Linked DNA regions of Homo sapiens. The protein of the gene in region 2 interacts with the protein of the main gene of each other region in a pairwise test. Each region holds a gene or a part of one and is shown on either strand. Other genes may lie near its edges.

What was found. Proteins that work in one complex are often made in the same cells at the same time.
Region 1: the proteins of ITSN1 (region 2) and EPS15 interact in binary tests that used the Homo sapiens proteins (3 or more experiments, as listed by UniProt).
Region 3: the proteins of ITSN1 (region 2) and AP2B1 interact in binary tests that used the Homo sapiens proteins (3 or more experiments, as listed by UniProt).
Region 4: the proteins of ITSN1 (region 2) and DISC1 interact in binary tests that used the Homo sapiens proteins (3 or more experiments, as listed by UniProt).

Annotation. Positions count from the first base shown.
Region 1 is NC_000001.11:51,400,767-51,404,266, reverse strand, and holds part of EPS15 (epidermal growth factor receptor substrate 15), read left to right. Parts: intron 1-734; coding exon 735-848; intron 849-1,741; coding exon 1,742-1,832; intron 1,833-3,313; coding exon 3,314-3,349; intron 3,350-3,500. UniProt on the Homo sapiens protein: Involved in cell growth regulation. May be involved in the regulation of mitogenic signals and control of cell proliferation. Involved in the internalization of ligand-inducible receptors of the receptor tyrosine kinase (RTK) type, in particular EGFR.
Region 2 is NC_000021.9:33,775,001-33,778,500, forward strand, and holds part of ITSN1 (intersectin-1), read left to right. Parts: coding exon 1-108; intron 109-3,500. UniProt on the Homo sapiens protein: Adapter protein that provides a link between the endocytic membrane traffic and the actin assembly machinery. Acts as a guanine nucleotide exchange factor (GEF) for CDC42, and thereby stimulates actin nucleation mediated by WASL and the ARP2/3 complex.
Region 3 is NC_000017.11:35,607,822-35,611,321, reverse strand, and holds part of AP2B1 (AP-2 complex subunit beta), read right to left. Parts: intron 3,181-3,500; coding exon 2,935-3,180; intron 1-2,934. UniProt on the Homo sapiens protein: Component of the adaptor protein complex 2 (AP-2). Adaptor protein complexes function in protein transport via transport vesicles in different membrane traffic pathways.
Region 4 is NC_000001.11:232,035,790-232,038,780, reverse strand, and holds part of DISC1 (disrupted in schizophrenia 1 protein), read right to left. Parts: intron 2,090-2,991; coding exon 1,950-2,089; 3' UTR 1-1,949. UniProt on the Homo sapiens protein: Involved in the regulation of multiple aspects of embryonic and adult neurogenesis. Required for neural progenitor proliferation in the ventrical/subventrical zone during embryonic brain development and in the adult dentate gyrus of the hippocampus.

The sequences.
Region 1 (3,500 bases), on a different chromosome or scaffold from region 2:
TTAAGCTATTCTCCTGCCTCAGCCTCCCGAGTAGCTGGGACTACAGGCGTGTGCCACCACACCTGGCTAATTTTTTGCATTTTTAGTAGAGACGGGGTTTCACCGTGTTAGCCAGGAAGGTCTCGATCTCCTGACCTTGTGATCTGCCTGCCTCGGCCTCCCAAAGTGCTGGGATTACAGGTGTGAGCCACTGCATCCGGCCTGCCCCTACTACTTCTTAAGTCTTTCACCCACTCGTCTAAATGAAGAAGACAATGGGAAGCCATTGAAGGACTTTTAACCAGAAGGGTCACGATCACATCCACATTTTAGAGCTATTAGTTTGGCTACAATAAGGAGAAGAGATTGGAAATACATGTATTGGAGGCAGGAAAGCAGTTGGAAGGAAGACTGCTATAGTAATTGGAACCAAAGATGATAGTACTATAAGTGATTGATAGTGACAGTGAGGATGGAGAAGAAGGCAAGGATTTGAAAAAGAGGTAAGAGGTAGACTGAGCAAGACTTGGAGTCATATTCTGAGGATTAAAGATGACCTGAAGGTTTCTGACATGAGTGACTTTGATGCTTGATGACACCATTTCCCTAAAAAAGATTATAGAAGGAGAAGTTATTTGATGAATACATTCTGCTTGTCTTTTTTTATTTTTAAATAGTTTTTGGTTATCTTTAGTCAGTTTTCTCTGCCATGTCAAAAAGTATATTGTTAATCTACTTGCATTAATATTTTGTAGGCAAGAAGTAGTCCTGAACTACTGCCTTCTGGTGTGACTGATGAAAATGAGGTGACTACAGCTGTTACTGAAAAAGTTTGTTCTGAACTCGACAATAATAGACATTCAAAAGAGGTAAAAAATGATTTTATATTTACATTGGGGACTTGTAAGGGTGGAAGGACAGGAGGAGGTGAATTATCAGACATTACTTAATGGGTACAATATACATTATTCAGATGATAGATACATCAAAAGCCCCGACTTCACCTTTAGGCAATATAGCCATGTAACAAAATTCCACTTGTGCCCCTTGAATTTATACATATAAAATAAATAAATGTTCTTAATAGCTGGATGTGGTGGCAAGTGCCTGTAGTCCCAGCTACTCAGGAGGTGAAGTAGGTGGATTGCTTGAGCCTGAGTTGGAGGCACTAGGCAACATAGAGGGACCTAATCTCTAAAAATTAAATGATATTTTAAAAAAATGTCCTTATCACTGTTTTCCTCAGATGAATTATACACTATTTTAGGTGAAGGAAAGAGAAAAATATGTTAAGGTGAAGGAAAGAGAAAAATGTGTTAAAGGTGCTTTATGACTAGAGAGATATTTGTTACATTACCATCAGTTGATTTTCCTTTTGTTTTCAAGACCAAGTCTCACTCTGTCACCCAGCCTTGAGTGCAGTAGTGTGATCTTGGCTCACTGCAACCTCCACCTCCCAGGTTCAAGCAATTCTCCTGCCTCAGCCTCCTGAGTAGCTGCACATGCCCAGCTAATTTTTGTGTTTTTGGTAGAGACGGGGTTTCACCATTTTGGCCAGGATGGTCTCTATCTCTTGACCTTGTGATCTGCCCACGTCAGCCTCCCAAAGTGCTGGGATTACAGGTGTGAGCCACCGTGCCTGGCCCATCAGTTGATTTTTCAAAGCATGTGTATGACCTGAATGTGTGTTATTTTATTTTAAAATGTTACCTTTTAAAACTTTGGTTTCTAAAAAATAATTTTAATTTAAAATTATTTTTAGGAAGATCCATTTAATGTAGACTCAAGTTCGCTGACAGGTCCAGTTGCAGATACAAACTTGGATTTTTTCCAGTCTGATCCTTTTGTTGGCAGTAAGTACTCTTTTTTTTATATTATAGATTTACCCAAAAAAAAGACTTTTTAATATATAAACTAAGGATTCAAGGCTTCAGTTTCAATAGCCTACCAACTCAGTCTGTCGCCCAGGCTGGAGTGCAGTGGCACGATCTCGGCTCACTGCAACCTCCGCCTCCTGGGTTCAAGCGATTCTCCTGTCTCAGCCTCTTGAGTAGCTGAGACTACAGGCGCCCACCACCACACCCAGCTAATTTTATGTATGTATGTATGTATGTATGTGTGTATTTATTTATTTATGTAATTAATTTATTTAGAAATGGAGTCTCGCTCTGTCGCCAGGCTGGAGTGCAGTGGCACAATCTCGGCTCACTGCAACTTCTGCCTCCCGGATTCAAGCTAATCTCCTGCCTCAGCCTCCTGAGTAGTTGGGATTGCAGGTGCCTGCCACCACACCCAGCTAACTTTTGTGTTTTTAGTAGAGGCGGGGTTTCACCATGTTGGCCAGGATGGTCTCCATCTCTTGACCTCGTGATCCGCCCACGTTGGCCTCCCAAAGTGCTGGGATTACAGGCGTGAGCCACCGCGTCTGGCCTAATTTTTGTATTTTTAGTAGAGACTGGGTTTCACCATTTTGACCAGGCTGGTCTTGAACTCCTGATGTAAGGTGATCCGCCTGCCTCGGCCTTCTAAAGTGCTGGGATTACAGGTGTGAGCCACTGCGCCTGGCCTGCTTTGTATTTTCCTACTGACTAATGTTGAACATCTTTCTAGATGCTTATTAGCCATTTGTGTATCTTCTTTGGAAAAGTGTTTATTCAATTTTGGTGAAGTCCAGTTATCTATTTTTTCTTCTGTCACTTGTGCTTTTGGTGTCATCTAAGAAACTATTACCTAAGTCGCAAAGATTTAATGCTGTCTTTGTCTAAGAGTTTTATAGTTTTGCTGTTACAGTTAGATCTTTGATCCATTTTGAGTTTATTTTTGTATATGATGTGAGATAGAGGTCGAGCTTCATTCTTTTGCAAGTGGATATCCAGTTGTCCTAACACCATTTGTTGAAAAGACTGTCCTTTCTCCATTTTGTGTTCTTGATACGCTTGTCAAAAATCAAATGACCATAAAGGTAAGGATTTATTTCTGGACTCTTCAATCCTGTAAGAATTTTTTTTTTTTTGCTTCAGTAAAGCTCAGTACCTTTATTTCTGAACTGGTGATGATAATACCCTCCCAGTACTCTTGTGGAGAGTAGAGATTTTGTTAGTAAAATTTTTGCTGTAATGTCTTCCCCTCCATCCGTAACCTCAACTTGTGATCAAGGTAAGTATAGTTGGCTGTATATTTCATAAGGTCAATGACATTCCTTATTTTATCTACTGTGAAGTGAAGTTATTGAAATAAACTTTGCTTTGCTTTTGTTTGAAAGTTACTCTTTAAGTAGTGGTGTCACCACAGTAAATATTGTTATTTGGATTTCTTTGTGTTTATTTTATCACAGGTGATCCTTTCAAGGATGATCCTTTTGGAAAAATCGGTCAGTATCTTATTGAGTTTCATCTTAGCTTTCATTCATTTCTGCTTAATAATAAGCTTATGTTATTTAGGTCTGAAACTGAAGCCCCAGTAAGATGCTCTATGTGCCTGGCATTTTCAGAAAGAGAGTAGTAAATTCTTTTGATTTTGCT
Region 2 (3,500 bases):
CAAGATATCAGATGTCGATTGACCACCCAAAGGCAAGAAATTGAGAGCACAAACAAATCTAGAGAGTTGAGAATTGCCGAAATCACCCATCTACAGCAACAATTACAGGTGAGGAAATATGCCTCTTAAAAGCTATTATATTAAACTGGCATCCTTTTCTCTAATTCATTTCATTTACTTACTTATTCAGTAAACATTAAGCAACTGTCTTGTACTAGGCACTGGGAAGCAAAAATGAAGTAGACAGGGTCCTTGTGTGAAAAGTAGCCTGTCAAGGAGACAAACTCAGCAAATATTTACTGAGCACTGCTTCGGGCCAGGTGCTTTTGCAGTTTCTGAGGCTACAGCAGGGACAGACACTCTGTCTTCTGGGAGCTTACCCTCTGTTTGCAGGAGGAACAGAGACTAACAAAATAAAGTGTGTACTGTATTAGAAGATGAAAAGTGCTATGGAGAGTGAGTAGGGAAGGGAATAGAGAGTCCTAGGGATAGGAAATGTTGTGATTTTAACTAAGGTAGCCAAGACAGGTCTTTCTGGATGGTGACATTTGAGCAGAGACTTGAAATTAATGACAGGCTAAGCCATGTGGGTATCTGGCAGAGCAAGATCTAGGCAGGGAAATAGTGCCAAAGTCCTGAGGTCGTAGCAGGACTCTGAGATGCCAGTTACAGCAAGGAGACTACTGGGTAGAGCAGGTGGGAGCTGGATCACACAGAACCTGTAGTCCACCAACAGGACTTTGGCTTTACTGTGGTAATTACAATAAATAAGTACACTTAAGTATTTTAGGGGGTCATATGAGAGCTATATGTATACTAAATAGTTGGAGACATACAGAGCACTTTTAGTAGTTCTGTCTTCATTTTAAAGCCTATCCAAAGTTGTTATAATATCACCTGGTTTGGTATCAAGTGCTGAACTACAGGGGCATCAAATTCATGTAAATATTGCCTGTGGATGATCATATTTGCCTGTGATTCCTTTATGTTAGGCTTTTTCTCAGCATGATGTTTTTGAGATGTGTCCATGTTACTGAGTGAATGACTCTTTTGTTTCTTTTCATCACTGAGTAGTGTTTCCTTATGTGTCCATTCACCTACTGGTTGATATTCAGGTTCTTTCCAGTGTGGAACTTTTATGAATAAAACTGCAGTGAGCATTTATGTACAAGTCTTTATGTGGAAATGGTTTATTTCTCTTGGGTAAACTTTTAGGAATGGAACTACTGTGTCATGTAAGTGTATATTTAACCCCATAAGAAACTGTCAGGCTGGGCACAGTGGGTCACACCTGTAAACCCAATACTTTGAGAGGGCAAGGTAAGAGGATTGCTTGAGCTCAGGAGTTTGAGACCAGCCTGGGAAACATAGCAAGACCCCATCTCTAAAAAAAAAAAAAAAAAACTTAAAAATTAGCTGGCATGGGGGCGTTCACCTGTAGTACCTGCCTGAGGCAGGAAGACCACTTGAGCCCACGATATCGAGGCTGCAGTGAGCTATGATTGAGCCACTGACTGCCTGGGCCACAGAATGAGACCCTGTTCAAAAAAAAAAAAAAAAAGAGAGAGAAAAGAGAAAGGAAAGAAAGAGAACTGACAAACTGCAAAGAGTTTGTACCATTTTACATTCTGATCATTTAATTTGTATTTCCCTGAAGGCTAATGATGTTGGGAATCATCTTACATGTTTATTGGCGAGTATTTTTTACTGTGCATCTTCGTTGAAGTGTCTGAACAAATCTTTTGCCCATTTTTTATTGGGCTGTTTGTCTTACTATTTACTTGTAAAAGTTCTTTTTATATTCTTAACAAGTCCTTTGTCAGATACGTGTTTTGCAAATATTTTCTCCCAATCTGGCTTGGGTTTAATTTTTGTTAGTGGTATTTTTTAAAGGGCAGAAGTTTTAAATTTTGATGAAGTTCAGTTTACCGTTTTTTTTCTTTTGGTGTTCATGCTTTTTATGTTCTATCTGAGAAATCTTTGACTACCCCATGACTGCAAATATTTTATTTTCTTCTAGAAGTTTTTGGGGCTTAAAAAAATAATTTTTACAAGTTTTTATAAATTGAAAAAAACTTAAAATTTTAAGTTTCATAGTTGTATCTTATATGTTTAGGTCTATGAGCTATTTCAAGTTGATTTTTGCAGATAGTATAAGGTAAAGGTTGAGGTTTATATTTTTACATACTGATACACAGTTGTTATAGCACCATTTATTAAAAACACTGGCTTTTTTCCCATTGAGTTACCTTGGTAGCTTGTTGAAAATCAGTTGAACATATTTGTAATGGTCTATTCTGGACTCTATTCTGTTCTTTTGATCTGTCTGTCCTTTACCAGTACCTCACCCTGTTGATACCTAATTTTTGAAGTCAAGTGATACGAATTCTCTGTTATTGTTCTTTTTAGAATTGTTTTTGGTTATTCCAGGTCCTTAACATTTCCATGTACATTTTAGAATCAGCTTATCAGTTTTTACAAAAATGCTTGGAATTTTGTTGGAATTCCATTGAATTTATAAATCAATTTGGGAAGATTTGACATCTCAGCAATAGTAAATCTATGGCATAAATCTCTATTTTGGTAGTTATAAATTTCTCTCAGCAATGTTTTGTAGTTTGCAGTGTCCAAGTCTTGTAGATACTTTGTAAAGTTTATCCCTAAGTATTTTGTGGCTTTTGATGCTATTGTATATTGCATATTTTTATTTTAGTTTCCAGTTGTTTGGTGCCAGTATATGGAAATAGAATTTATTTTTGTATATTGACCTTATATCTGTGATTGCTTAACTAACTTCCTTTGTGTGTCTTACTTTGTTGACCAGAACCTCCCATACTATATTGGATAGAAGTGGGAAGAGCCTTGTTCCCTCTCGATGAAGGAAAGCTCTCTCACCATAGAGTATAGTGTTAACCAGGGTTCTTGTAAACACCTTTTATCAGGTTGATGGACTTCTCCTTTTGCTGAGGGTTTTTATGATGAATGGGTGTTGAAATAGATCATATGTTTTTTCCCCGCATCTATTGAGATAAGTATGTGTTTTTTCTTTCTTATTTTGTTAATATGATGAAGTACATGGTTGCCATTTGAATGTTAAATCAGCCTTCCATTCTTGGGATAAACCACTCTTGGTCATGGTATATTACCCTTTATTAAAATATTTCACTACATTCCATTTCCCATTATTTTATTAAGGATCTTTTTAAATCTGTTGAATTCAATTCAACAGAGATATTGGTTTTTAGTGTTCTTCTAATATTCTTGTCTAGTTTTGATATCAGGGTAATGCTGGCCTCAGAAAATGAGTTGGAAAATATTCCTTCCTCCTCTATTTTCTAAAAGTGTTTGTGTTGAAATAGCATTTCTTCTTTAAATTTTGGTGGCATTCACCAGTGAAGGCCTCTGGGCCTGGAGCTTTCTTGAAGACTTAATTATAAAATTCATTATGCAGATATAGGGCTATTCTGATTTTCTTCTTCTCCTTGAATCTGTTTTGATTA
Region 3 (3,500 bases), on a different chromosome or scaffold from region 2:
TTCCATATTCTTAGCACCACTGAATATTTAATAAGTTTCCACGGGGTACATGATATTCTGCCCACCTGGTTGACGGTTGCAGCACAAACACTTTTCATCTCATCTGTCCTCAGGTAGAGAATTATAGATAGTTGCTCAGAATAACAGTGAATCAAAAGCAATGCCAAAAACACAAGTTGGTGCCAGCTAAACATTCTGTAAAGTAGATACTACTAACTTTAGACAATATTTATTTTTCTATATTTTTGAGGAAGGGTCTGTCTTTGTCACTCAGGCTATAATGCAGTGGTGCAATCATAGCTCACTACAGCCTTAAACTCCTGGGCTCAAGGGATTCTCCCACCTCGGCCTCCCAAGTACCTGGAATTACAGGCATGCACCACCACGTCCAACAAAATTTTTTTTTTTTTTTTTGAGACAAGAGTCTCGCTCCGTCACCCAGGCTGGAATGCAGTGGCACGACCTCGGCTCACTGCAAGCTCCGCCTCCTGGGTTCACACCATTCTCCTGCCTCGGCCTCCTGAGTAGCTGGGACGATAGGCGCCTGCCACCACGCCCGGCTAATTTTTTGTATTTTTAGTAGAGACGGGGATTCACCGCGTTAGCCAGGATGGTCCTGATTTCCTGACTTCGTGATCCACCCACCTCGGCCTCCCAAAGTGCTGGGATTACAGGCATGAGCCACTGCACCCGGCCCCACCGAATTTTTTAAAAAAATTTTTGTAGAGACAGGGTCTCAGTTTGTTGCCCAGGCTGGTCTCAAACTCTTGGCTTCAAGTGATCCTTCTGCCTCAGCCTCCCAAAGTGCTAGGATTATAGGCATATGAGCCAACATGCCTAGCCAACTAATTTCTTTATGTAATTTTTAAAAAGGGGGCTGGGTGTGATGGCTCATGCCTGTAATCCCAGCACTTTGGGAGGTCAAGGCAGGTGCATCACCTGAGTCAAGAGTTTGAGACCAGCCTGGCCAACATGGTGCAACGTCGTCTCTACTAAAAATACAAAAATTAGCCGGGCATGGTAGTGGGCACCTGTAATCCCAGTTACTAAGGAGGCTGAGGCAGGAGGAGAATCGCTTGAACCCAGAAGGTAGAGGTTCCAGTGAGCCGAGATCATGCCACTGCACTCCAGACTGGGCGACAGAGTGACACTCCATCTCAAAAAAAAATAAAAAATAAATAAAAGGTACCATATGGTGTTACTTAGGGGAAATAAAAGGCAGGGTTGAATCTTCTAGTACTGGTGGTGATGCTCTGTCAGAAGTCATGGTTAAAGCATCTGCACTTCCACACCCACACCGACGCCCACCCTTATGCCTAGGTTGAAAGATTTCTAATGGTAGTTACTACCATAAAAACCTTAAAAAATTATGACTTGCTTCATCCTGTGGATTTAATACTAATCTTGAAGGATAATAAACAGAAGCCAAGGCTACCTGTAAAATAAAATGAACCAAACAAAATGTCAAAGCAGAGAAGTGAACAGGTAATTTACAAATGAGAGACAGCATCTATGTCCAGCCAAATTCTAATTCTCCATTTAAAGTTCACTAAGAAAATATTCAGGCCAAGCACAGTAATTCACTGAGGAAGGCCAAGGTGGGAGGATTGCTTGAGGCCAGGAATTCATGACCAACCTGGGCAACATAGCAAGACCCCATCTCCATAAAAAATAAGGCTGGGTGCGGTGGCTCACACATGTAATCCCAACACTTTGGGAGGCCATGTCAGGTGGATCACGAGGTCAGGAGATCAAGACCATCCTGGCTAACACGGTGAAGCCCCGTCTCTACTAAAAAATACAAAAAATTAGCCAGGCGTGGTGGCAGGCGCCTGTAGTCCCAGCTACTCAAAAGGCTGAGGCAGGACAATGGCATGAACCTGGAAGGCGGAGCTTGCAGTGAGCTGAGATCACGCCACTGCACTCCAGCCTGGGCGACAAGGCAAGACTCTGTCTCAAAAAAAAAAAAAAAATTAGCGGGATGTGGTGGCATGTGCCTGCAGTCCTAGATGCTCAGGAGGCTGAGGTAGGAGTGCTTGAACCCAGGAGTTCAAAGTTACAGTGAGCTATGACTGCACCACTGCACTCCAGCTTGGCCACAGAGCAAGATCCTATCTGTAAAAAATAAATAAATAGATAGATAAATAATTTTTAAAAGGGAATATTCAAAGGTTATCCACTGATTAACTCTTAGTGTTATGCACCTTTCAGTAAACATTGCATTAGACCAAAAAGGTAGCACTTTAAAGAAAGTGGCTATTTTCCTCCATCTTCCTGGCAACAATATTTAATGACCCATCCAATATATTCAATTAGTACCCAATTCAAATGAGCTTTAGTTATTACTGGAGTCAAACATATCACTTGGGACTTGACCTTCTTCATTATATAAGCAAAGTTTAAAATGTCAATAAGGAAAAGGTCCCAAAACTTTAAGGTGTTAAGCTATGTTCTGGCTGCTAAACATTTACAACATAACCAAGTTGGCTAAAAATAATCTTGCCCTAGAAATTCCCCTATAGAGAAATGCATGATAATAATTAGGTAATAAAGATCATTTTCATTCAGTTTCTAGTCCCACACCACCAGAAAATACCACAAATATTGATCTGAAGAAAATAATCTTAAATATATATAAATTTACGGCCAAACCTCCTGAAGAAAATGATGAAAGTTTTCATCATGGGCAATATGGGCAAATATGAGCATAAGTACAATACAAAGATTTGCTTTAAGATCCCTGCATTTTAGTACTTGGTTCTCACCTCAAAAACACCTAGGATATGAAATATACAATCTGTGAGACACACAAAGTCATGTTTCCCATAGCTACCCCATAACCCAGTATTCCAAAGACAAGGTTCATATTAAACACGCTTTAACAAGGGACTCATTTTAAATACTGCTCTCTTTGTAAAAGCAGAAGCTTATTACCATTGGATTTGAATCTGCTATGAGATCCCGTAGAGAATCCAGAAATCCCTGATCTTCCACCATTTGGGCATTGATATCATGGAGTTTTGCCACGCAGACTGCTGCTGTTTTCCGAACATAGGGATCCTCATCCTTCAAGCACTTGCGGAGCGGCTCACAGAGATATTCTGTAATTTTGTCTACCCGGATGCACCCCATGGTTCTGACTGCCAAGGCTCGAATCAAAGGATTAGGATCTTCACAGTCCTGCAGAAAACAATCACCAACAACTGTAGGTATACATGGTGGCTAAAAGTAAACAGTCCAGTTTATGTAAGCTGCAAAAGAATTACCTCATTAATTTAAGCTTCCAGATACATTCTACATGAGCTCCAATCTTCCATGCTATTCCTTTCCTAAGTACAAATCTTAGCTGCCCTATTTAAGAGTTTAGGTGAAGAAGTCATTTAACTGTTTTAAATACAAAATGAGAAACAGCTCAGCAGGATTCACTCTAGTGCCAGGCAGAGGTTTAGGGAGTTCGTACCATCCCACAGCCATTAGGATCTACCCTAAAAACAGGAAAA
Region 4 (2,991 bases), on a different chromosome or scaffold from region 2:
GAACAGAAGCACAAACAGAACAACCACTGGATTAAATTTACCAATCTGTGGCAGGTAGTTATTAAGCTCAACACTCTGCAAAAGTGTGAGTGTGGTTTCTAAAGTGATGTAAATCAGAGTTTGGACTGGGACTTCCTCAGAGAATGCAGTGCTGTACAATACTAGATCTATGGGATATGAATAGGAGTTACATGAAAAAAATTCACGATCCATTAAACTTGGAAAGTTTGAGGTTAGATAAAATCAAGTGAGTTTCCTTACTATAAGTTCTCTCTCAGACTAATATGCTAATGTGCATTGTGGTTCTCCAAGCAGATATTATGGTATGGTGTATTTACCAAAGGTACTTGACCAGAGAGGGTACTCCTTTGTTTAGAGAGCTTCTCTTGGGGCCACCTTCCTCAGTGCACTTTGGGAAGTGCTGCCTAATTGAAATCAGCCTGTTTTGCAGCTGTCTCAATAGGAGTCCCAGCTGGGCCAAAGAAGCAGCCCAGCAGGAGCCTGAAATGCCCTTGCATTACTGAGTACTGCACTGATTTACTGAGTACTACATTGCCTATATAAGTACTCAGTACTTATAGTACTGAGTACTAGCTGCCCTGTGTTACTGAGTACTATGCTGTCCTACTGAGCACTACACTGTGTTACTAAGCAATTCACTGCCTTACTGAGCACTGCACTGCCTTATTGAGCACTGCACTGTGTTACTGAGCATTGCATTGCTTTACTGAGTACCATACTGCCTTACTGAGTACTGTACTGTATTACTGAGTACTGCACTGTGTTACTGAGTACTGCACTGCCTTACTGAGTACTGCACTGTTACTGAGTACTGCACTGTTACTGAGTACTGCACTGTGTTACTGAGTACCGCACTGAGTATTGCACTGCCTGAGTACTGTGCTGCATTCCTGAGTACTGCACTGCCTAACTGAGTACTGTATTGTATTACTGAGTACTTCACTGCCTTACTGAATACTGTACTGTATTACTGAGTACTTCACTGTTACTGAGTACTACACTGTTACTGAGTATTGCACTGCCTTACTGAGCACTGCACTGTCTTACTGAGTACTGCACTGCCTGAGTACTGTATTGTGTTACTGAGTACTGCACTGCCTTACTGAGTACTGCACTGCTTTCCTAAATGCTGCACTGCCTGGCATTGAGTGAAACAGGTTCCACGGGAAAATGGAACAGGCTCAAACATTTTATACAGGTCCCCTGATCCATCCACAGCCTCACTGTGGGTAAATTTCAGAATGTCCTGATGAAACAGAGACTCTCAGGGATCCTTTCTTCAGATGCAATCATTGCCACAAAAGGAAAATTGAAAGGTGGCATATCACTGGGAGGTTGTTGTCTTACCAAAATATCTTTTGGAAATTGCATATTAATTTTTCTAAGATAATATTAGATCACAGGAGAAGTAAGGTGAAAAGCTGTTAACTCCAGACTCTGAGGTTAATTAGCTCTCTTAGATTGTGCACCTGTAGGAACGTGTAACAGGTATGATGACAGAGTCTTATGCTTGGTTTCCTTTTTATAGAATCTTGAATCAGGAAATATTTTCGTTGCAGCAGAAGGCAAATGGCACAGGAAAAAGAGACATTTTTCCAGAATTCACCCCAACTTCTCTCTAATGGGGGCTGAGATGAAACTATTCTCAAATCCTGTGGAAGACATTCCCAAGAATGACATGGAAAAGAAATTTTTGAGTGACATTTAGAAGGAAATTCAGCAAATCAGTCTCTCTCTCCATATTCCAAATTGCAGACTCCTCAGTTTCACACTGATGAGAATGAACATGAACCACCTTTCCACTGAAAGACCTCAAGGCTCTGTATCTCCGTAATTGATTCAGGCATCTTAGCTATGGCGGGGGAGGGAAGAGCAGCCCCCCGGGTCCAAACATGGTGGCCCACCTCCCTCCCCCATCCCGTCACTCCTCAGGCTTGTGCTTCGTGGACACCAGCTGTCATGCAGGAAGCTGCAGCTTCTCTTTCTCCCGCCTCCTTTGCTGGCTGGAGCTGCAGGATCATGGCCTGCAGAGTTTCCTTCACCATCTGGAGCTCCCTCCTGAGAGACTGTGGGCACATTGTTAAGGAGCACATTCGAAGGTGATCGTGGCCCTCTGCGGCCTCCGAGGGATCGAAGAGCGTGTGAGCCTGCTGGAAGCAGATGGGTACTGACACCTAATTGCAGTTTAAAGTTCTTTCCAATTGTATGAATTAAATATTAATATAAACTTTACACTTTTATATTTTAGAATGACCGCAATTTCTACAATGCCTGAGGTATTGACTCTCTCAAGTCAGGTCTTAAAAAGGAAATGGAAGAGTCAGCTCTTAGCAGAGACAGATGGTCAACTCAGATGCTCAATGATATGCAGTTGGCGTGACCATAACTCCGGCTAAGCCCCAAGTTGGGGTGGGGCAACTGTCAGATGCAAATACTCTTGACAGTGGAAAGGGTAGAATGCTTGAAATCAAAATCTCCTTGAGAAATACAGGATTTGGGGTTGCCATAAGTAGGGAGAGGCATACTGGAGCAGACTCAGTTATTAACATGGTCTCTGTTCACCATTAACCAGCCTTGTCACCCTATGCAAACCAGTTAAAGCCTCAGTTTTCTCTTGAAATGATGACTTTGAAACCTCTCCAGGCTCTAACCTGCTGTTATCTGTTAGTATATTCCCAGGAACTAGGAAGGGCACTCAAGACTTGATAGAGTCCATCAAAGGGCAAAGAGAGCTTGCTTTTTCTGGGTTGGTTGGTTGGTTCTTTTCTTTTCTTAAGCTGTTGGGCTCTTAGTTTTCTAACCTATAAAGTTATTTCTCACATGGAGAAAACAATCATAGAGAACTTAGCAAACAGTAATAGATAAGGCTGTAGTTCTCTTAAGAAACGGGTTCTCGTCTGGGTGTTCAAGCAGGGGAATGTTTAACCAACAGTGGTTTTTCTGTCCATACGTCATCCAGTTCATCCTTTC